Linked DNA regions of Homo sapiens. The protein of the gene in region 1 binds, or shares a complex with, the protein of each later gene. Each region holds a gene or a part of one and is shown in the gene's direction. Other genes may lie near its edges. The genes, in order: PTPN11 and GAB1.

The links.
Region 2: the proteins of PTPN11 (region 1) and GAB1 are in contact, whole or in part, in a crystal structure (PDB 4QSY), measured with the Homo sapiens proteins. Residues at the interface, in NP_002825.3 of Homo sapiens: Gly13, Val14, Glu17, Arg32, Pro33, Ser34, Lys35, Ser36, Thr42, Arg47, Thr52, His53, Ile54, Lys55, Leu65, Gly67, Gly68, Tyr81, Gln87, Leu88, Lys89, Glu90, Lys91, Ile96; in NP_002030.2 of Homo sapiens: Lys623, Val625, Glu626, Tyr627, Leu628, Asp629, Leu630, Asp631, Leu632, Asp633.

The regions. Positions count from the first base shown.
Region 1 is NC_000012.12:112,419,257-112,431,150, forward strand, and holds part of PTPN11 (tyrosine-protein phosphatase non-receptor type 11), read left to right. Parts: intron 1-11,894. UniProt on the Homo sapiens protein: Acts downstream of various receptor and cytoplasmic protein tyrosine kinases to participate in the signal transduction from the cell surface to the nucleus. Positively regulates MAPK signal transduction pathway. Dephosphorylates GAB1, ARHGAP35 and EGFR.
Region 2 is NC_000004.12:143,329,689-143,342,355, forward strand, and holds the start of GAB1 (GRB2-associated-binding protein 1), read left to right. Parts: upstream 1-7,187; 5' UTR 7,188-7,500; coding exon 7,501-7,572; intron 7,573-12,667. UniProt on the Homo sapiens protein: Adapter protein that plays a role in intracellular signaling cascades triggered by activated receptor-type kinases. Plays a role in FGFR1 signaling. Probably involved in signaling by the epidermal growth factor receptor (EGFR) and the insulin receptor (INSR).

The DNA.
Region 1 (11,894 bases):
CTCCTCGTCCCCTCGCCCTCCAGGGGCCGGGGGCCGGCCCCACCGCGCCCCCACCCCTCGGGTCCCCATTCATTTCCTGCCTCCCCGAGTTCCGGCTGCGGCAGCCCCGGGGATGCCCGTCAGGCCCGGGGCAGGTAGAGCCGCCGAGGGAACCACGGGTGCCAGCGGCCAGGCTCAGCGCCGCATTCCTGACCCATTGCCTCATGAGAATTGCCTCATGGTGATTCCGAAATAACCCTGCTCACTTGGGGAGGCTCCTTGGGACACGAGAGGGGAGTTGCGCGGGGCCGGGCCCCCAGTGGTCTAGTCGTTCTGGCTCACTGTGCCACTTTCGTGCATTTGGGGACTTCACGCAGGACCCCTGACCCTTTTATATGCCTCTTTGTGTCTTCTTTTCCTCCTACCCCTCACGTGCCAGAAATGGAAAAACTGACTGTATCTGCAGCCACTAGAAGTATTTCCTTCCTCTGCGATCTTCGCTTTGGGAGATGGAAAGGAAGGGAGCCGCATCTCGTTATTTAATCCTTCACTGCAACCTTAACAGTCAGGTCACTTTACTGGTACCCGTTTTATGGATGAGGAAACCGAGGCCCAGAAGCAACATGCTAGTAAATGACAAGATTTGAAACTTAGGAGGATTAGTGAGTTAATGAGATCCTTTGAAAGGTCAGGGTAATACTACTACTAATAGCTAACATTTGCTTAGTTCTGACCACAGCCCTATCAGATGGCTACTATTATCCCCATTGTAAAGATGAGTAAACCGAGTTTCAGAGGTTAAGTAAATTGCCTAACCTCACAGCTAGTAGGTGGTGGAGACAGAATCCCTACTTTTAATCACTATGTTGCTTCTATTATTTTGTAACTATTGCTAACCATTTGTAAGCCTTAATTTTGTTGTCAAACAGTAGTGTGACCTGTTGTTTTCAGATAGTGATCCTGCTATTTTGTATAGTCACTCTATATACCACTCACACTTAAGACCCATTGTCTATTCTTTTCCATGATTGTTCAATTATGGTCACTGTCTCAGACATTTAAAAAACGATTCAAGCTATTGAGGCTATTTGAATGAGATTTTCTTTTCTTTTTTTCTTTTTTTTTTTGGAGACGGAGGCTCACTCTGTTGCCCAGGCTGGAGTGCAGTGGCGCAATCTCGGCTCACCACAATCTCCGCCTCCTAGGTTCAAGCGATTCTCCTGCCTCAGCCTCCCAAGTAACTAGGACTACAGGCGCACCACTATGCCCGGCTAATTTTTGTATTTTTAGTAGAGACAGGGTTTCACTATGTTGGCCAGGCTGGTCTCAAACTCCTGACCTCGTGATCCGCCCGCCTTGGCCTCCCAAAGTGCTGGAATTACAGGCGTGAGCCACCGTACCCAGCCTGAATGAGATTTTTCAAAATATTAGGAATGTCTCCTCCAAACACACCTGGCATGTTATTCATACATGGATCTGGAATTTAAAAAGGGGAGAAAAAGAAAACTGAGAACTCGTAGGAAGTGAGTGACTTGGACAGGTCGGTTGGCAAGTGCTTACAGATCTGGGTAATATATAACTGCATTTCAACAGAACAGTGTATAGCCTCAAATGTTCTAATTCTTTAGGGAGCTTTTAAATAAACAGTTGTCTATTCTTTAATCTGTCAAATAGTCATTGAGCCTTTTGTTCCTGGTGTCTGCTCTTCCAGACAAGTAAGGATCTGCTGCTTTAGGAGACATCAGACGGGGCTGGGGGTTGGGAAAAGGTCTGGGTAGTAATAGACCCTACATTGTCCAGTTTGTTCATTTAGAAGCATAGAAGTGTGGGCATAGTCAAAGTAGCAAGTGGTAAAGATGACAGTTTGAAATGGAGTAATTCCTTCTCCCCTCCAGCCCTGGTATTATGCACCACCCAAAAAGCCGGGTTATGAACATAATACACATAATTTTGAATGATTCATTATTTTTTGGATTATAAGCCTGTTTTATTTGTTAACCAGCCTTAATGAGGTATAAATGACATGCAATTAATTGCATATATTTAAATGTACAATTTGATCAGTTTTGACATACATATACACTTGGGAAACCACCACCATAGTCAAGATAATGAACACATCTATCACCCCTGGTAATTTTGCCTTATGTTCTTTATAATCCTTCCTTTGTTCTTAGGCAGCCACTATTCTGCTTTCTGTCACTATGTATTAGTTTGCATTTCCTAGAATTTTATTTTTAAAAATTTTAAAATTGTTTGAATAGAGATGGGGTCTCACTGTGTTGCCCAGGGCAGTCTCAAACTCCTGGGTTCAAGTGATCCTCTCACCTTGGCCTCCTGAAGTGTTGGGATTATAGGCATGAGACACCCTGCCCAGCCCTAGAATTTTATTATTATTGTTATTATTGTGTTTTTTTGAGATAGGGTCTCACTTTGTTGCCCAGGCTGGAGTGCAGTGGTGCAATCACTGCAGCCTTGTTTTCCTAGGCTCAATCCATCCCCCCTCCTCAGCTTTCCGGTTACTGGGGCTACAGGTGTGCACCACCACACCCGGCTAATTTTTGTATTTTTTTATAGAGACAGGGTTTTGCCATGTTGGCCAGGCTGGTCTCAAACTCCCGGGCTCAAGCGATCTTCCTGCCTCGGCCTCCCAAAGTGCTGGGATTACAGGCATGAGCTATTGCGTCCCGCCTTCAAATTACTTTAACCTAGTATTAATTCATTCAACAGGAAGTTAATGAGCCAGGCAGGATAAAGCAGTAAGATAGGAAAATATTGCTATTTTCATGGCTGAGAGAGAGCAGACAAACACATGACTAAATAGGGCAATTTCAGGTAGTAATAAATTCTAGGAGGGAAAAAATCCCACAGAAATGTGAGGATGGGAGAATGCAGTTAGTTTTGATAGGTGGTTTAGAGAAGGTGATCGTGTGAGCTGACACCTGAATGACAATTAGTAGTCTGAATTTTGTTTTGCTTAATTATCAAAATAACTCCTCTTGGGTTCGGCTTTTATATGCATCCAGTAATTAAAATGTAAGTATATTCAATGTACTGATATCTCTCAGCATCATAGGTAGGAAAACTAAGGCATTCAGCAATTAAGTGACTCCTCCCTTGATCATGTAGCAGTGATAGTACTGGATTTAGATTTTGAGGTTGCTTCTCTGCCCTTTTCTGCCTTTGTGAAACCAACAAAGCTGCCTGTATTTTCCAACTCTTCCTTCAGCATGTGGTACCTCCTTTACATCTGTTTTTGTTGCTCTGAAATCCATACGCGACGATGAGCTGAGAGGGGCAGAAAATTGAGCTTGTTCTGAGACTGGAGGCTTTTGGTTTATCTCTTGCAGGTCAAGTACATTTTGTCCTGGGCTCTCCCTGGTGGCCACGTTTGTTTATCTCCTGCGGGAGTAAATAAACTTGCCTTGCTGAAAAATAACAGTTCTGTGTCTTTGCAGTGGAAACTGGGATGTCTTTATTAACGTTAGGTCCTGATGTAAGGCCAAGTTTTTGGTTAGAGTTGCTCAAGTGCAGAGGCCACTGCTAAGATGACTTACCCCTCGTGTCCATGGTCAATGTGGAGACTGTTATGAGTGGCACATGATGCTGGAAAAGCAGAGCCAACTCATGTTTGTAATTGTCCTAGCAGGCCGTGGTGTACTTTGTTAGGCAGCCACAGAACAATAGAGAAACTCAGCTTATTCCCCTTCCCTCTGGGAAACACAGACAGTACTTGCCATCCAACGCCAATGTTTTTAAGGAAGAAAGAGGCAAAAAGTGATGTTGGCAAGGTCTCTGGGAGTTGTGGACCCCAACCAAGGATTGGAGACCCTGAAATGGATTCAGATGCCCTAAAATGCAGCCCAGTTCATTACTATGAATTTTGGAGGACTTTGTGCCTTGAGCAAATGTGTATATGTGACGCTCTTTGACAACACTGAAATAGGAAAAATACTATCCATGTTCGCGAGGAGCACTGAATTTAGAGAGGGAGACAGACTTTTATGCCAGCATCAAATGAATTTGATAAAGCTAGTACCAAAATGAAATTTGAAATTTTTTTTTTTTGAAATAGAGTCTTACTCAGTCACCCAGGCTGGAGTGCAGTGATACAATATTGGCTCACTGCAACCTCCACCTCTTGGGTTCAAACAATTCTTGTGCCTCAGTCTCCTGAGTAGCTGGGATTACAGGTGCGTGCCACCATGTCTGGCTAATTTTTATATTTTTAGTAGGGATGGGGTTTCACCATGTTGGCCAGGCCGGTCTTGAACTCCTGGCCTCAAGTGATCTGCCCACCTTGGCCTTCCAAAGTGCTGGGATTATAGGCATGAGCTACCACACAAGCCTGAAATTTGAAATGTATTGGTATAGAATATACTGTTTAGAATGTATGTGTATATATGTATATTTGTATACTCATATAAACACAAATACACATTGTATGTGTTTCTGTAATATGTATATCTGTCTACACATACATGTATATACACACATACAATGTCTTTTTTTTTTTTTTTTTTTTTTGAGACAGGGTCTTACCCTGTTGCCCAGGCTGGAGACTGCAGTGGCATAATCTTGGCTCACTGCAGCCTCGACCTCCTGGGCTCAAGTGATCCTCCCATCTCAGCCTCCTGAGTAGCTGGGACTGACTACAGGCACGTGGCATCAAACTTGTCCAATTTTTCTATTTTTTTGTAGAGTTAGGGTCTTGCTCTGTTGCCCAGGCTGGTCTCAAATTCCTGGGCTCAAGCTGTCTGCCTGCCTCGGCCTTCCAAAGTACTAGGATTACAGATGTGAACCACTGTACCTGGCCTTTACAATGTCTATTTTAAAGATAATGGTTCAAGTTTTTATCATCCCACTGGCCTACTCTAATGAAACATCTATCCATTCATTGAAGAATTATTTATGGTGGGATAACTCTGTGCCAGGTACCGTGCTAGGCATTGAGTATTCCAGGTTTTAGGAAACAGCACATGCAAAAGTGCTGAAGTGGGAGAAGATCTCGGAGTGATTGAAGGCTAGGAGAGAGCAAGTGTGGGAGCTGTGAGGCTGGGAAGGTGGGAGGTAGGTGGGAGCAGACCACATAGGGATTCTTAATGTCTTTAGTGTCATGTGGACCATGGAGAGGAGTGTAGATTGTATTTTTAGAGCAATGCAAAATCATAGAAGGATGTGATCGGGGGAGTGGCATGAGCTGATCTATTTAAAAATATTTCTCTGGCTGCTGTGAAGGAAGGATTGTAGGAGGCAGGAGTAGATTCAGGGAGATGAGACAAGTGATGAGAGAGGCTTTGAACTTGGGTAAAAGTAGTTTGTGGAAAGTCTTTTTTGGAGGTAGTTTTTGTTTATTGCCTTGTCATCAAAGCAGAGATGCTGACCAATGAAACTCCATGAGAAAATAGTGATTTATAAAGACATATCTATGCACTGCCATTAAAAAGCTGCTTGGAAAAAAAGGATAAAAAGCTGCTTTAACAACTTTTTTTTTTGAGATGGGGTCTTACTCTGTCACCCAGGCTCACGACCTCAGCTCACTGCAACCTCTGCCTCCCAGGCTCAAGCATTCTCCCACCTCAGCCTCCCGAGTGGCTGGGACTGCAGGCACACGCCACCATGTCAGGCTAATTGTGTGTGTGTGTGTGTGTGTGTATGTGTGTGTGTGTGTGTGTGTGTGTGTGCTGGGACTGCAGGCACACACCACCATGTCAGGCTAATTGTGTGTGTGTGTGTGTGTGTGTGTGTGTGTGTGTGTGTGTGTGTGTGTGTGTATGTAGAGATGGGGTTTTGCCATGTTGCCCAGGCTGGTCTCAAAATGTTGCCCAGGCTGGTCTCAAACTCCTGAGCTCAGGTGATCCACCCGCCTCGGCCTCCAAAGTGCTGGAGATTACAGACGTGAGCCACTGTGCCCACCTAACAACTTTAAAAAAATTTTGACATTTAGTAGGATATTTATTGCATTATTGTTGAGATGGCAAAATATTGGAGACAACTGAAATGTTCATCAGTGGGGGGGGCTAGTTAAATGAAATACAGTGTAGCATGCATTAGAACACTTTTCAAGAATTTAACTTTTTTTGTAGCCTTTTACTTATAATGCTTGTCCCTATTGATGCCTTTTTTTTCAGCATGACTTACTCTTTTACTATAGGATATTAAAATTTAATTAGATTAGAAATGAGGAATATTCTTGTAATCTGTAGAAAGTAACAAACTATAAACTTATTCCCCAAGAACAAATATAATAATTTTTCTGGAGTAGCAGGTAAGAAAGATATAAATTTATATGTATACAAGAAACTGAAATTAGACTTTATACATTTAAAGGTTACAAGTGCAGTTTTATTACATGAATGTATTATCCAGCATTGAAGTCTGGGCTTTTAGTGTAACCAGCACCTGAATAACATACATTGTACCCATTAAGTAATTTCTCATCCCTCAAACCCCTCCCACCCTGAAATTAGACTTTGGATCCCTAGTTTAAATTCCACCCCTCTCTTTTTTTGAGACAAGGTCTCACTCTGTCACCCAGGCTGGAGGGCAATGTTGCAATGATAGCTTACTGTAGCCTCAACCTCCTGGGCTCAAGGGATACACCCTCCTCAGCCTCCTGAGTAGCTGGAACTGCAGGCGTGCACCACCACATTCAGCTAATTTTTTGATTTTTTTATAGAGATGAGGTCGGAACTCCTGGGCTCAAGCGATTCTCCCCAAGTGCTGGGGTTACACACATGGGCCACTGCCCCCAGCCTAAACCTCCTTTCTCAGTATAGCAGCCTTGAGATGAAGTTCCTGAAATTACTGGCCAGCTTGACTGTTTCCCCACATCACTGGAGGAGGGGGATGCATAGATAAAACAAAATATTCAGCATCATTGTATTTTCTTTTTGTTTCATCAGCATCTTTTTTTAAAACTCACTTGACATAAGTCCCTAGCCTCAAAGAGTAAAGCCTTTGCAGAATCTGCATTCAGATTTCGGGTGTGATTTCCTGACAGATAGTTCAGGTTTGTAAACTCTTTTTTTTTTCTTTGAGACAGAGTTTCACTCTTGTAGCGCAGGCTGGAGTGCAGTGGCACCATCTTGCCTCACTGCAACTTCTGCCCCCTTGATTCACGCGATTCTCCTGCCTCAGCCTCCTGAGTAGCTGGGATTACAGGCATGCGCCACCACACCTGGGTAATTTTTGTATTTTTAGTAGAGATGGGGTTTCACCATGTTGGCCAGGCTGGTTTTGAACTCCTGACTTCAGGTGATCTACCTGCCTCAGCCTCCCAAAGTGATGGGATTACAGGTGTGAGCCACCGCAGCCGGCCAAAACTTTGTTTTTTTTCCTCTTTTTGTTGCTGAGAAATGTAAACTCTTACAGACACAAATTATGTCTCCCATTTTTTAAAACCCACTCAACACAGGGGTCATGTGTAATAGGCCCTGGAGCTTATTTTAGACATTGATTTGAGGCTCTTTTCCCCAAGTGCTGGTTTGTGTGTGTGTGTATGTGTGTGTAAGTCTTTCTATGAGATGAGTGGTACCTACCTGGGCTGTGTGATCTTTTTTATTTTATTTATTTTATTTTTGTAGATACGAGGTCTCACTATGTTGCTCAGGCTGGTCTTGAACTCTGGGGCTCAACCTATCCTCCCTCCTTGGCCTCCTAGAGTGCTGAGATTACAGGTGTGAGCCACTGCACCTGGCCAGCGATCCTTAATAAATATAGATAATGGCCGGGCGTGGTGGCTCACACCTATAATACCAGTACTTTGAGGGGCCGAGGCTGGCAGGTCACCTGAGCTGAGGAGTTTGAGACCAGCCTGGGTAACGTGGGTGAAACCCTGTCTCTACAGAAAATAGAAAAATTAGCCAGGTGTGGTGGTGCATGCCTGTAGTCACAGCTACTTGGGAGGTTGAGACAGGAGAATTGCTTGAACCTGGAAGGTGGAGGTTGCAGTGAGCCGAGATCGTGTCTTTGAACTCCAGCCTGGGTGACAGAGTGAGACCTTGTCTCAAAAAAAAATATAGATATAGGCTGGGCGTGGTGGCTCACACCTGTAATCCCAGCACTTTGGGAGGCCGAGGCGGGTGGATCAGGAGGTCAGGAGATCGAGACCATCCTAGCTAACATGGTGAAACCCTGTCTCTACTAAAAATACAAACAATTAGCCAGGCCTGGTGGTGGGTGCCTGTAGTCCCAGCTACTCGGGAGGCTGAGGCAGGAGAATGGCGTGAACCCGGGAGGTGGAGGTTGCAGTGAGCCGAGACTGTGCCACTGCCCTCCAGCCTGGGCGACAGAGCGAGACTCTGTCTCAAAAAAAAAAAATCTATATATCTATATATCTATATCTATATAGATATAGATATAGATAATGCCAGATGATGGCTGGTTAGAAGGGATTGTCAGGGGCTGGCAGGTTTTGCAGGTGTTAGAATGAGCAAGATGAGGAGAAGGATGCTTACTTCCCTCTCCTTGTAACTCTCTACCCCCTCCCCTCAGTGTTTTTTTATTTTTATTTTTATTTATTTATTTTTTTTGAGACAAGGTCTTGCTCTGTCACCCACACTGGATTGCAGTGATGCAATCATAGCTCATTGAAGCCCAAACTCCTGGGCTCAAGTGATCCTCTTGCCTCAGCCTCCCAAGTAACTGGGACCACAGGTGCGTACAACTATGCCCAGTTAAGTTTTTCATTTTTTATACAGACGGGGTCTTGCTATGCTGTCCAGGCTGGACTTGCACTTCTGGCTTCAAGTGATTCTCTTGCCTCAGTTTCCCAAAGTGCTGGCATTATGGGCATAAGCCACTGTGCCTAGCCCATCAGTGTCTTTTTATCCTTTACTCCTATCAAAATTCATTCACTCAGCAGCCATTGATCAAGTGCCTACTATATACATGTTGAGGACTGGAAATTTATTTGTCTCTTCTCATCTTATCTGGACCCTCTGTGTTAATTGTAATTAACTGTAATCATTCTGTATTAATTGTAATAAACTTGTTGATAAACTCAAATGAGGCCATACCGTTTTGCCACTTCCCCTCCTTCCAGGTTATATGGATGTACTTACATTGCAGGTTTCATTTGTTGGTTCAGTTTTTAAACTAAGCCCTATTGTGTCAAATTATGCTAGGTGTGAGATGGGGAGTTCAAGCTGTGTGTTGTCTTTTTTTTTTTTTTTTTTTTTGCCTCACTTACTAATATACAAGCGCTTATAACCTTTGAGGCTGGCCCTATACATTAAGATTTTTATTAATTCCACTGTTCTTTATCTTCTCTTACTAAGTTCTCAGGGTCGAATGAACTCTAACTGCTCCTTGCTAGTGATAAGCAAGTTGCAAATTACAGAATTGTCAGTGATTGAATACACGTATTAAACCTGTAACTGGGAAGCATTTTTGGTAATTATGAATACTTTTGGAAAAAAAAAAGCTATGGAAGGAAAGTTTAAAATCTACGAAAGCTCAAGTAGATGGTCATGGAATAGCTATTTCAATTTCTAACTATATATTACTTATTTATTTATTTATTTTTGAGACGGAGTTTAGCTCTTGTTGCCCAGGCTGGAGTGTAATGGCGTGATCTCAGCTCACTGCAACCTCCACCTCCCGGGTTCAAGCTATTCTCCTGCCTCAGCCTCCCGAGTAGCTGGGATTATAGACATGTGCCACCACGCCAGGCTAATTTTGTATTTTTAGTAGAGACGGGGTTTCTCCACATTGGTCAGGCTGGTCTCGAACTCCCAACCTCAGCTGATCCGCCTGCCTCGGCCTCCCAAAGTGCTGGGATTACAGGCGTGAGCCACCGCGTCCGGCCTCTTAACTATTGTTTGAAATAATGTAGAGACAGCTCCAGAGCCATGAAGAAGTGTATGAAGAAGCAGTGTTAGCTTAAATGACATACATGTCACAATTGCCTATGTGAAACTATCATAATTATGCATGAGAAGTATCTATCCTGCATAACCTCCACCAATAATAATAATGTTAATAATAGTGAAAACTAATGTTTATTAAGTCCTTACTGTCTCCAGCCTCTGTGCTAAATACTGGTTACTAAGTTTCCCTGAAAATACTATTCTCATCTGTTTGTTCTTAATAACAGGATAGCATAATTGTAAGTTGTAAATGAAATAATACAGTTTATGTAATAAAAGGGTAAAAGAGAAGACCACCTACCTTATCTTCTGTTGCTGATCTGGATGGATGTAGGTGGTGTTTACCTAGTTTCACCTTTGGCAGTTGAAACTACTTTTTTTTTTTTTTTTTTTTTTTTTAAGAGACAGGGTGGGCCAGGCGCAGTGGCTCACGCCTGTAATCCCCGCACTTTGGGAGGCTGAGGCGGACAGATCACTTGAGGTCAGAAGTTCGAGACCAGCCTGGCCAACATGGTGAAACCCTGTCTCTACTAAAAATACAGAAAAATTAACTGGGTGTGGTGGTACACACCTGTAATTCCAGCTACGTGGGAGGCTGAAGCAGGAGAATCGCTTGAACCCGGGAGTGGAGGTTGCAGTGAGCTGAGATTGTGCCACTGCACTCCAGCCTGGGTGACAGAGCAGGACTCCGTCTCAAAAAAAAAAACAACAACAAAAAAAGAAATTTTTAGAAATATGAGATGACAGCAAGAATGAGGGTATTAAAAAGAAATTTTTAGAACTAAATAGCAGAATGTAATGGTGAAAAGTTTGATTTCTCAAGTCTGCTTTGCACACAGGCATGTGGCAAACATTCAGTAAGTATAGCTGTAATTTTAACCAGCTGTAATGTATAATAGCCAACATATCACATTTTTCTTTTTTCTTTTTTGAGACAGAGTCTTGCTCTGTTGCCCAGGCTGGAGTGCAGTGGCACCATCTCGGCTCACTGCAACCTCTGCCTCCTGAGTTCAAGTGATTCTTGTGCCTCAGCCTCTCAAGTAGCTGGGATTACAGGTGTGTGCCACCACACTCGGCTATTTTTTGCATTTTTAGTAGAGATGGGGCTGGTCTTGAACTCCCAGCCTCAGGTGATCTGCCTGCCTCAGCCTCCCAAAGTGCTGAGATTACAGGTGTGAGCCACAGCGCCTGGCCATATATTGCTTTTTTCTTATTATCAGAGCCAGTTCATAATTGTGGAAAAATAGTGTTTGTAACAATGTAAGTATGGATAAATCATCTTTTTAATTTTGTGATTCATATAGGTTTGTTGTTGTTGTTGTTGTTTTGTTTTTATCTTGAGACAGAGTCTTGGTCTGTCACCCAGGCTGGAGTGTAATGGCACAACCATGGCTCACTGCAGCCTCAGATGCCTGGGTTCAAGCAATCCTCCCGTCTCAGCCTCTAGAGTAGATGGGACCACAGGTGTGGGCCACCATGCCTGGGTAATTACAAAACTTTTTTTTTTTTTTCTAGAGATGAGGTCTCACTATGTTGCCCAGGCTGGTCTCAAACCTTTGACCTCGCTTCAGCCTTTAGAGTAGCTATGACTATAGGCATGTGCCATCACCCAGCTAATTAAAATTTTTTTTCTTTTTTTTTTTGGTGGAGATGCGGTCTTACTTTGTTACCCAGACTGCAAGTTAGTTTCAGATATCAACATTTGGTGTTTCCAAATGCACGGGGAGGCTTTGGAGCAAGTTTTTGGCTCATATGCATAGGTGTCCTAGACATTCACTTTGCAAATTCTTATTAAAATGACTACAGTAGCATACAGATAGGGAAAAATATCCTTGTCAGTACCACCGATTGGGTGAGAAGAGACTGTATATTAAAAACAATGACCATCTTTTTGCCACATAAATTGCTGGTGGGGCCAGTTTGAAGAGGGCTTTGTCAGCTGCCTTCTGCCTCTTCCTCTTGAGTACGTGGAGTTGGAGTCATCCTTGACAGCCTCCTGTTGACACCACCCGGGTCACAGATGTGAAACTGTGTGGATGTAGG
Region 2 (12,667 bases), on another chromosome or scaffold:
TCCTCTTATTCTATGCAACAACGAAGCATTTCTCAATTGGATTGTGACATGCGATGAAAAGTGGATTGTATATGACAACCATTGACAACGAGCTCTGTGATTGGACTGAGAAGAAGCTCCAAAGCACTTCCCAAAGCCAAATTTGCACCCAAAAAATGCCATGGTCACTGTTTGGTGGTCTGCTGCCAGTCCACTACAGCTTTCTGAATCCTGGCAAAACCGTTACATCTGAGAAGTATGCTCAGCAAATCGATGAGATGCACCGAAAACTGCAATGACTGCAGCCGGCATTGGTCAACAGAAAGGACCCAATTCTTCTCCATAACAATGGCTGACCCTACGTCAAACAACCAATGCTTCAAAAGTTGAACAAATTGGGCTACAAAGTTTTGCCTCATCTATCGTATTTACCTGACCTCTCACCAACTGACTACTGGCAAGCTTCTTCAAGTATCTTGACAACTACTTGCAGGTAAAATGCATCCACACCAGCAGGAGGCAGAAAATGCTTTCCAAGAGTTCGTCAAATCCTGGAGCACGAATTTTTACGCTACAGGAATAAACAAACTTATTTCTTGTTGGCAAAAATGTGTTGATTGTTATGGTTCCTCTTTTGATTAATAAAGATGTGTTGGAGACTAGTTATGATGATTTAAAATTCGCAGTCCAAAACCCTAATTACTTTTGCACCAACCTAATAGGTTACAAGAGCTCTGCCCTTATAAATGGAACTGGTGCCCTTATACAAAAGGCCTAGGGCAGCCTGTTTGTGTCTCTTGCCATGTGAGGACACAGCAAGAAGGCACGATCTATGAGGAACAGGCCCTCACCAAACACTGGATCTGCTGGTACCTTGATGGAGGACTTACCAGCATCCAGAATTATAAGCAATAAATGGCTATTGTTTATCTATTACCCAGTCTAAGGTATTTTGTTACAGCAGCTTGAATGGTCTAGGTCACTGGGTGGCAGAGACATCCATAAAGCTAATGAAGCTTCAGCTCAGGGCCTGTCATTGCACAGGCCTCTTGTGAGAGTGGGGAGCTTCTAGGAGAAGTGGAGTGTCCTAGTGGAGAGGGGGTGTCAAGCTGTACTCAGGAAGAATATGTAAGGATTCTGGTAAATTACCTATAAATCTTAGAAGAAAGACATCTGCATCTCCAGGGCTTCGGGAATTTGTTGGTGATTTATTTCCTCATTCTAAATACATATTCATCCAAATTTCGTATTTGTAATTGCATTATTTTCGTTAAAAAGACTCCCCAAACTATATAAACTTCTGGTCCCAGGACATGAAGATTTGCCCCTGCAGAATAATTTTGTATCTATCTGAGGTCACTGAACATGAATTTACAGTGATGTCACTCATCCTGTTCTGCGACTTGCTCCAACAGCACTTGGCTGGTTGTGTGCAGAAGAAAGTACAGTCAAGCTGGGCATGGTGGCTTAGGCCCGTAATCCCAGCACTTTGGGAGGCCAAGGCAAGTGAATCACTCGAGGCCAGGAGTTTGAGACCAGCCTGGCCAACATGGCAAAACCCTGTCTCTGTCAAAAAAATACAAAAATTAGCTGGGCATGGTGGTGTGTAGCTGTAGTCCCAGCTACTGGGTGGGCTGAGGTGGGAGAATCACTTGAACCCAGGAGGCAGAGGTTGCAGCGAGCTGAGATAGCACCACCACACTCCAGCCTAGGTGACAGAGTGATATCCCATCTCAAAAAAGGAAAAAAAAAAAAAAAAGAAAGAAAGGACAGTCAGGTTTGTCCAGAGTTGGGGTTTTGTGAGATAGGAATGTTTACTGAAAATGTGGACCACAGAATTTAAGCTGGATAAGGAGAAGGGAGTGAAGAAAGGAAATGTCTGATAGATCACGGGAAAGCACAAGTCTTAATAGACTAGAAAAGCTGTTGAGAAGAAGGAATAATTACATAGGGAGATATTGAAAAATCAAGTTGAAAGATGTATAGCTAAAGTGGGATGCTGGAAGGGAATAACAAAATGCACAAAGATGATTGCTTGAGGTGATTTGGATAGATTTTTCTTTTTTCTTTTCTTTTTTTTATTTTTTTTTTGAGACAGTTTCGTCTTGTTGCCCAGGTTGGAGTGCAATGGCGTGCGATATCGCCTCACCGCAACCTCTGCCTTCCGAGTTCGAGTGATTCTCCAGCCTCAGCCTCTGGAGTAGCTGGGATTACAGACATGCGCTACCATGCCCGGCTAATTTTGTATTTTTAGTAGAGACCGGGTTTCTGCATGTTGGTCCGGCTGGTCTCGAACTCCTGACCTCAGGTGATCTGCCAGCCTCGGCCTCCCAAAGTGCTGGGATTACAGGTGTGAGCCACCTCGCCCGGCCTGATTTGGATAGATTTGAATGTCATAGGAGATGAAATGGTCATTTGCTTCAAGAAAATGTCTAAATCTGAAGATCTCCAAGGACCTGCACAATCTGTCCCTTGCCTGCCTCTGTACCTCAGCCAGTGCCAATGTCTCCATCATTCACCCCACTGCTGCCTTCATTCAGTTCATTAAATGCTCCTTCCAGCCTGAAAACCTGTACACCTGCACCTTCTCTTTTGTCTGGAATACTCTCCCTTACTATGTCCACCAGGCCAACTTCTTCTTATCCTGAGGATCTCAATTTAAAGCCTGAATTTCCTGGCGGGCGCTGTGGCTCTCACCTGTAATCCCAGCACTTTGGGAGGCCAAGGCAGGTGGATCACCTGAGGTCAGAAGTTCAAGACCAGCCTGACCAATACAGTGAAACCCCGCCTCTACTAAAAATACAAAAATTAGCCGGGCGTGGTGGTGCACGCCTGTAATCCTAGCTACTTGGGAGGCTGAGACAGGAGAATAGCTTGAACCCAGGAGGCGGAAGTTGCAGTGAGCCAAGATTGTGCCACTGCACTCCAGGCTGAGAGATAGAGTGAGACTGCGTCTCAAAAAAAAAAAAAAGTCTTTTCCTCAGGGAAGTCCTTCCCAACCTACCGCCCTACTCCTGGGGGGTACATCCTCTGTTATATGCCCAAACAACACTATATTTTCTTCCATAGCATTTATCAACTGTATTGCCAAAATGATGGGGTTAATTATCTGCAAAAGCTTTTCTCTAGGAAAGAGGAGTGTGGGAACAGGTCTGGCTTTCCCCTACTGTATCCTGGGTCCTCAGGGACTGGCATATAATAGGCATCCCATAAATATTCGTTGTATGAATAAAATTTAAGATACTAACATATAATAACTTTTTCCAGCGTGCCTTTTAAGGCATAAAGATATAAAATATGATTTAACAAATAATCTAAACATGACATATAAAAATAAGGCAAATTTCCTTTCTAAAATATATACATGGAGACATATCTATCTTCAATTTCTCTTCAACCCTGATTTAATTTCTAGAAATACAAGCCTAAAACAACTCAGTAGAAGATAGGAAAAACACTTAAAGATTTTTTACATAGGAATGAGATAACTGAATGCCTTATTTGAAATAAAGAAAAAAATTTGTGGAAATTCCCAAAGCTAAATAATACAAGATATATTACAATTTTCCATTTACAAAGAACTTTATAACAAGAGTGTAGGAAATGGTAAATTTGCTAAAGCCAATAGTTAACTACTCAACAATACTAGTCTTACTAATGCTAATTATACTTTTGGCTCAATGTAGCTACATGCTGCCTATGGGAGAAGAGGAAAACAAATTTGATGGTTTATTTTCATTTGGAAGATTTGTGGCATGATTTATATTCACATACTTAAAAAGAAGTGCTTTGGTTTATTAGCTGCCATAAAAATTACGCTTGTTTATGTTTCAGAAAGAACATTAAGAAATACAGCAACAAACAGCAAAAATCCTACAATATCTAATATGTGCCTGATATTTAAAACTACCATTTCTTTTTTCCTTTTTTTCGAGACAGACTCTCACTCAGTCACCCAGGCTGGAGTGCAGTGGCCCTATGTCAGCTCTCTGAAACCTCCCTGTCCCGGGTCCAAGTGATTCTTGTGCCTCAGCCTCCTGAGTAGCTGGGACTACAGGCACGCGCCACCACACCCAGCTAATTTTTGTGTTTTTAGAAGAGACTGGGTTTTCACCACGTTGGCCAGGATGGTCGCGACCTCCTGGCCTCAGGTGACCTGCTCATCTAGACCTCCCAAAGTGCTGGGATTACAAGTGCAAGCCATCACGCCCAACCAACACTACCATTTTCCTTTTTATTTATTTATTTATTTTTCAGAGACAGTCTCGCTCTGTCTCCCAAGTTGAAGTGCAGTGGCACGATCTCGGCTCACTGCAACCTCCACCTCCTGGGTTCAAGCGATTCTCCTGCCTCAGCCTCCCGAGTAGCTGGGACTACAGGCGCGTGCCACCACACCCGGCTAATTTTTGTGTTTTTAGTAGAGACTGGGTTTCACCACGTTGGCCAGGGTGGTCTCAAACTCCTGGCCTCAAGTGACCTGCTCACCTAGACCTCCCACAGTGCTGGGAATACAAGCGCGAGCCATCGCGCCCGACTAACCGACCAACACTACCATTTCTTTTCTTTTCTTTTCTTTTCTTTTCTTTTCTTTTCTTTTCTTTTCTTTTTTTTTTTTTAGAGACACAATCTCGCTTTGTCGCCCAAGCTGAAGTGCAGTAGCGCGATCTCGGCTCGCTGCAACCTCCGCCTCCCGGGTCAAGCGATTCTCCTGCCTCAGCCTCCCGAGTAGCTGGGACTACAGGCGCACGCCGCCACGGCTAATTTTTTGTATTTTAGTAGAGACGGGTTTTCACTGAGTTGCCCAGTCTGGTCTCAAACTCCTGAGCTCAGGCAATCCACCCACCTAGGCCTCCCAAAGTGCTAGGATTACAGGCGTGAGCCACCGCACCTGGCCAACACTACCATTTCTATTTCTCATTAAACTTCTGCAAAATCGGTGTTGCAATTCCCATTTCACATATCGGGAAACTGAGACTCAGAGACATTGTGTAATTTACCCAAGGTCACGACTACTCAGTTGATGACCTGAAAAGTGCATCCAGATCTGCAAGAAGTTCCGCCCTTGTGATACTGTTAAGTGCCTGCCAAAAGATGACGGTCTCTAAACCCCAGTGGGAACCAGGCTTTTTCAGATTTTTCTTTTTTGAGACTGAGTCTCAATCTGTAGTTTTGTTGACTCTTTATTTGCTTACTACCCTATGCCACTACCTCCATATATGCAGGGATCTTTGTCTTGTCACCACTCCAGCACCTAATTTCTTATTACAATCATCTAACATTTTCAAACTCAGAGGAGCTTCAGAATATGAATGTTGTGTTAATAAGAAAATGACTGAAGTTATGTCTTTCCAGAAATGCTCATTTATGTCGTCATATTTTTAGCACTTTTATCTGATTATATTATCTGCTGAAATTGGCTTTGGGGCTTTTTCACAAATAAATTGGAGAAGATGTTTATTACAGAATCATGTTAAACTCAGGACCAGTATAATAATTGTGAAACACACAAGGAAGTAGGCAAATAGAACTAGGGTACCCAGTAAATTTCCTTCCTTCCTTCTTTCTCTCTCTCTCTCTTTTTTTTTTTTTTTTTTTTTGACGGAGTTTTGCTCTTGTTGCCCAGGCTGGAGCGCAGTGTCGCGATCTCGGCTCACCGCAATCTCCGCCTCCCGGGTTCAAGCTATTTTCCTGTCTCAGCCTCCCGAGTAGCTGGGATTATAGGCGCGCGCCACTACGCCCGGCTAATTTTTGTATTTTTAGTAGAGATTGGGTTTCTCCATGTTGGTCAGGCTGGTCTTGAACTCCCGACCTCAGTTGATCCGCCCGCCTCGGCCTCCCAAAGTGCTGGGATTACAGGCGTGAGCCACCGCGCCCGGCCAAGTGTCCCTCTTCTAGTCCAGCATCCGAACAGTAGATTTCAAACAAATACAAAGTTAAGTGGAATAGGCAACAAATGGAAGGGGTGTGAGACTTCAAAATGTCTCAGAGATAGGACCCAACCAAATCCTTGGCCTCGCCAAGCGCCCCCATCACTCTGGCAGAACAGCTCCAGAGACCAGCCCTGGCCAGCCCTGGGTCCCCATCTGTCCTCCCCTCCAAGCTGGTAGCTCCCGCGCCCTCTTGGTCTGTCCTTTAATCTCGCGCGGCGGGGACCGGCAGGATGGTGGTCTCCCCGCGGTTTTGCCTTTCAGGCTCTCAAGTAAAGAAAACCCTCGAAACTCCTGATCTCGAGCACAGCACAAGCTCCGAGCTGGCACCGGGCTGAGTCAAGATGGCAAGCCCCGGACTGAACATTCGAATGTCCCTCAGTCTTCCCCGCGCCCAAGCCCCGGTGCCTCTGCCCTAGCCGAGGCCTCTGCGGTCTTCCCGGGCGAGGAGCCGATTGGGGGCCGCCGGACGGCGGAGGACCCTGCTCCTGCTTCCCGAACTACAGATCCCAGGGTGCCTCTCGGACTCGCGCTCCCTCCCTCCCTTGCTCCCTCCCTTCGTCCGTCTCCTCCCCCGGCCCTTGTTGTTTTGGCTGGAAGCACTCCGGCGGAGTTTCAGAGAAAGTCTGGGCAGAAACCGGAGCCGGGCCTGAACGTGGGAAGGGGAGGAGGAGAGGGAGGAAGAAGGAGCCCGGCGGCCGGGAGAGGGAGGGAGGGATCGGGATCTGGGGCCGAGCCGCTCAGGACCTGCCGCGAGCCCCGGGGTGGGGGAGGCGGCGGGGGAGGAGCGCGAGGGGACGGGACAGCGGGATCCCTCCCAGGAGCCAAGCCGCCAAGCGCCTCGTTCCTCTGCTGCTCCCCGCCCTCTTCGGCGGCCGCGAGAGCGGACCCACCCTCCGGCTTGACCTGCGACCTCCCTGCGCCCGCCGCTCAGAAACGCCCCGCGCTTCGCTGCCAACCCTGCGGCTCCCTCTGTGACCCGGGACCAGCCCCGCGCCCGCTGCCCGTAGGCGGCTCGCGGCTTCCCCTTTCCTCGGCGTTCACCGAGCGCCGCGAAGTGACCCACCCTCCCCCGAGGAGAGGGAAGGAGGATCGCTCCGGGCGCATCGAAACCGAGGGCGGGTGGGCGGGCGAGCGGGCACCGCGCGGGGCATTGTGTGTGTGTGTGTGTGTGTGTGTGTGTGTGAGCAGCGCTGTGTCTGTTTCGGAAAGCGCTCTGGGGAGGTCTTGTCCCTAGGGGGCGGAGCGCAAAGGACAGAAGCTCCGGCACCGAGTCGGGGCAGAGTCCCGCTGAGTCCGAGCGCTGCTGAGGCAGCTGGCGAGACGGCACGTCTGGAGGCGAGGCGGGCGCACTGAAAGGAGGCCGGCGCGCCCGCGGCCCCGGCTCGCGTTCTGTTCAGGTTCGTGGGCCTGCAGAGGAGAGACTCGAACTCGTGGAACCCGCGCACCGTGGAGTCTGTCCGCCCAGTCCGTCCGGGGTGCGCGACCAGGAGAGCTAGGTTCTCGCCACTGCGCGCTCGGCAGGCGTCGGCTGTGTCGGGAGCGCGCCCGCCGCCCCTCAGCTGCCCGGCCCGGAGCCCGAGACGCGCGCACCATGAGCGGTGGTGAAGTGGTCTGCTCCGGATGGCTCCGCAAGTCCCCCCCGGAGAAAAAGTTGAAGCGTTATGTAAGTAGAGCTGCGGGCACCACTCCGCGGGCCTCGGCGTCCACACCCCTCCCCAGTCGGCTCGCCGGCGGCTGCAGCTGGCCGCGCGCGGGGCTGGTTCTTAAACGAATGCCGGTCTCTTTCCCCTTGGCCCCTACCCCTGGCGGGCTCGGGACAGGGTGCCTTGCACTCCCTCACGCCCAGGCATCCACTTGGCCGGACAACTTTCTTCCTCCAGGTTCCAGACAGCCTGCTTTGCGGGCCTGTTCGCCCCATAAAAGGACCTAGACGTCCAGCTAAACTCCTGCTGCATGCTTTTTTTCTTCCTTAGGAAGGATGGGGTGCGATGGAGAGAGGAGCCTTCTTCCTGCTTTATTCCTGCATCTGATTATTGGGCTGATGTGTGCTAAAGCTCCCGCACCGGGAAAACTGCCGAGGTTTTAGGGCTCACTAGCCCTTTCTTTGGTGGGCGCTCCCTCTCCTCCGCCCCTCGAGATGGGTTGCGGGAAGCGGGCTGTGGAGCTGAGGAGTTGGTAGTAGAGACAAGCATATCGAACGCGCGCAAAAGGGAAAGAAAGAAAAGTTATTACGCGCCCTGCCGTTTGCTTAGCAGGGTTCACATTTTCGCGGTTTTGAATTGAGGGACTTTGGAGTTTGGCCCGGGAGCCTTGGCGGTTTGCTGCGAGAGGAGGGCGCTGGGGGGGAGCCTAGTGGCTGGTGTTTGGGCGCCTTGGATGTGCTGTCAAACTCGGCAGGAGGGGACAGCTGAAGCCAGAAGGGATTTCAGTTGCGGTCCTTTCCCAGGGAACCAGAGTGGCTTTAATGGTGTTTGTGTAATTGATACAAGATGCTATGTGTTAAACCGTTTTAGCTGTTAGGAAAAATATTCCTTGAAAGTATCAACCTTGCTTTAGTGGAAACCTGTGTCCTCTTCAGAGGTCTGGGATCTTATTCTTCCTCCCCATTGGTTGTTTTGTTGCTGCTCCCTTGCAAAGGAAAGAAATGACACTTTTGTGCTGACATCTGGATCAAATATTTTTCTAGTAAAATGTGTTTGCAAAAGCAAAATTTATGCCCCCTTAAATATAATATAAATTTAATGCCTGTACGAAGGGAACCCGTTTGTCGTTGAGGAATATCTACACCCAGTATTAGAGCTCAGGTTAATCCTGTTAGTCACTGTTTGCTTGTATAGAACAGAGTGAAGTACACAGAGTGAAGTATTTAACTTCACTGACAACTCACCAGTGAATTTCTGATTTACTTTCTGCCAGAATTTATTATAGACAAGTAATTTTATTGAAAGACTCGATGCCACAAATCATAAGAAAGCTCTCCAGAGATGTGTAATGCCTCCAAATCCTGTCCATCTATCAGTTTTCCTGAATATCCTAGTAAAAATGCTAACTTTATTCCAAAAATATGAACGAGGCAGTGTTTTTTTTTCCAGCTGTTCTAAAGAGAAAGGTAGGGGTGTGTGTGTGTGTGTGTATGTGACAGAGAAGGAAGGGAGAAAGGGGTAGGGAGATAAATATATTTGTTTTGAGAAGGCCCAATTTAGGAAAAACAGATTCTTGGAGGAATTAAAGAATAACATATTTGCTGAACGTGAAAGTGATAATATAGGTTTAATTCATTCTTTCACATGGTTAGTTCATGGCTCACTCAAAAGACGCCAGGCACTGTATTAGACACCAACCATAAGGTCACAAAATACAGTAGGAAAAAGGAAAAAAGCCCTGCCTCTTGGGCTTAGAATTCAATTGAACTATTAACCAGGAAAGAAATCAGCCAAAAAGATTATGTCTTAACAAGAAAAACAAAAAGGAAAGTATAATTTGATCATTACAACTGTTTTCTGAGGTAGGTGTCATCTCTATTTTACAGAAAACAGTCCTGCATTTGAACCCAGATCTGCCTGATTGATTGGACTGTAAAAGGTTAACGACTCTCACCTAGTTCATTTCAAATGTGGAGCTTAGACTAGGTTATCTCTAAAGGTCCTTCAGGCTCACACCTGTAATCCCAGCACTTTGGGAGGCCGAGGCCAGTGGATCACCTGAGGTCAGGAGACCAGCCTGGCCAACATGGCGAAACTCTGTCTCTACTAAAAATACAAAAAATAGCCGGGCGTGGTGGTGTACGCCTGTAATCCCAGCTGCTGGGGAGGCTGAGGCAGGAGAAATGCTTGAACCTGGGAGGTGGAGGTTGCAGTGAGCAGAGTTTGTGCCATTGCACTGCAGCCTGGATGACAGGGTGAGACTCCGTCTCAAAAATAGCAACAACAAAATAAAGGTCCTTTCAGATTATAACTTTTCCTGACTCTGAATATTAGTTGAGAATACAAGAATGAGGTGGACTATGGATCAGGTGCACAGTGCTAAAGAAATGTAAGACCTAGTCTTTGCCTTTAAGTAGCTCTTTGAGTCTTTGGGACCACGAGACAAGTATATGTGAAAAAGCCAACAGTGCAAAGTGGTATATGACTGTGTGTCTAAGTTGAGTGGTATGGGTATTTTTTGGCTGTTCTGAGGAACAAGTTCAATGTAGACTGAAACTATGGGAACATTTGAGAGAGACAGTGGGCTGCCTACATTGTGTTTTCCACAGGAGGATGAATGTGCCTAATAGCTTGGGAGAAACTAGGATTTTCTTTGCCTGGTGTAGCACTGGTGTTTTCTTTACCCACGAATAAAGTAGATGGAGATAGTCCTGGAAGACAGTAGACAGGGCGGCTGTCAGAATAGAGGAAACCAGCATGGAGTGTAATGAGTTAAATAAGGCTTATTTAACTGTCAGGTTAAATAAGGCTTGTATTTTACCTGTCAGGTTGGTGGCCCAGAAGATTTTGACATTCCCAGATTATTGATCTTTTGGCTTTGCTGTCCAGTTTAGATGGTTTTTGCTAAAGTAGCTTTGACCATCAAAGATATAGACATGTATACGTGCATTTCCTATGCTTGTTTTTTTTATGTAGAATGTTTATTTTTCTGGATAAAGGAAACATTGTTGGCCACCCAGTAGGCAAAATGTTTGTGGATAATGATTTGTAATGAATGGATTTGCTATGAAAAGATATCTTGGATGCTTGATACTATAATTATTAAATGAGACTTCAGGGAGTTTGAGCATCATGATTCTGTTTGGAAATATTTGGCCCATGGGACTTTGACAGTTGTCTCACTGTTTACAGCATTTATAGGGTAGTCCGAACACTGATTAAGATGATCCATAAGGGCTTTTAAGTGACAAAAAAATTGTTTTAGTTTTTTTTAATTAATTTTTTTTTGAGATGGAGTCTTGCTCTGTCACCCAGACTGGAGTGCAGTGGCACTATCTCGGCTCACTGCAACCTCTGCCTCCCAGATACAAGCAGTTCTTCTGCCTCAGCCTCCCCAGTAGCTGGGATTATAGGCATCCCCCTCCACACCCAGCTAATTTTTGTATTTTCAGTAGAGATGGGATTTCGCCAGGCTGGTCTCAAACTCCTGACCTCAGGTGATCCACCCACCTCAGCCTCCCAAAGTCCTGGGATTACAGGCATGAGCCACCACGCCTGGCCTTAAATTGTTTTAGTTTTAGCTTTAAAGCCATCTCATATATGGCCCCCAATGTATTCCATTTACAGCTCCGTTTTATGTTTACTGTTTCATAGTCAACTCAAGCAGGATTGTTTTTTGTACACGCTAGTGTGTTAGTCTGATGTGTAAGCTTTTCTTGAATTTTCTAAAGAATGACACACAAAAAAATGAAAGTCAAGAGTAGTCAGCAGATTCCCCAGCTTTTCCTTCTCTTTTTAATTTTTTCTATATTCGCAAAAGGTTCTTTCTTGTATGTGTTTCATTCTCCTGGAAGTTTTTAAAATCTACTTAAAATGTAGGTGAAAATTTTAATGCTTCTTTTCAGGGTTGCTACTGTGGTGTTGCTGTTTTCATGCTGTGTTATATATTAAACAGCTGCTTTTTTACTTTGTTAAGGACCTGATGGAATCATAAACAGATTACTGTCACTAGGATTACAGAAAACAAGTAAAGTCTTGGTAGTATGCACTCAACAATGGTGCTCAGATTTTTAAAGAATTATTTAAAGAAATGATGGTGAAATTTTCATCAGAACCTGAAATTTTAGCTGAAATAAGATGCAAGTCTGTAAATAAAGTATTGTTTCAAGACAGCTGGCTACCACCATCGCTCTGGAGGAGGAGCTTCCTTGCCTGAAGCCCAAACACTAAGTTTGGGCTCCTCCATAGCCCAGCTGTCAGCATTGGGCAGGTGCACAATCTCAGCAGGAGAACCTGCTTCTGAGGCCAGAGCAAGGTGGCCTGTTAGCTGACAGCCAGCCTGGTAGCAAGGCCCCAGCCAGTTCTTAGGTAGGTAATCTGTACCCAGCGTGGGCTCTCTGTCTGCTCTGCAGCTGTCAATTAACAGGACAACTCTTGTCTGGACTTCAAAAACACACCCCTGGTTCTGGAAATGGGCCTAGAAACAGAAATAGCCTCTCCTACTGGGTGGGCACCTGACATCTGACATGGAGGAGAGGGGCGTGGGCAGGCCAAGTGTCAGCATCTCCTTGGTTCAAGGACAACCCAGGACCTGTGCTAAGCATGAAACCCCTGCTCAATAGTGTCACTACAACAAAGAGGACTGTCATGTCTAGAAGCTCTTCCTATCCTTTTTTGACAATTACCACTAGCAATCAATGGATTCTGATGTTTCTGCTTACAGTGACTGAATAAGCATAATTATTCTATTGAAGGAAATTTTTTCTTGCCATCCTCATGTTAGTAAACATAATTCAGACTCCCAATGTTTTTACCTTTTCAAGTGTAGCAAGAATGTTTTTTCTGTTAACAGAGATCATCAACTTGCAATTACATTAAGCCTTTATGATGGTTAATGATAGTTCATTTGTTGTGCCTGGGCTGAATGATAAGTGTAGAACTCTCCACGTGCAACTTGCTGAATCTCCAAATCTGATTGCTACCTTTTGAGATTCAGAATTACTGTTAGGAAGGTGCATTAGTTTGGAGGGGGTAGTTTGAGAATTCTGCTGGCTCTTTAAAATTATTTTTTTAAGAGATCATCTTGGAACAAAAAGTGGCAAGAGTTATAGTTGG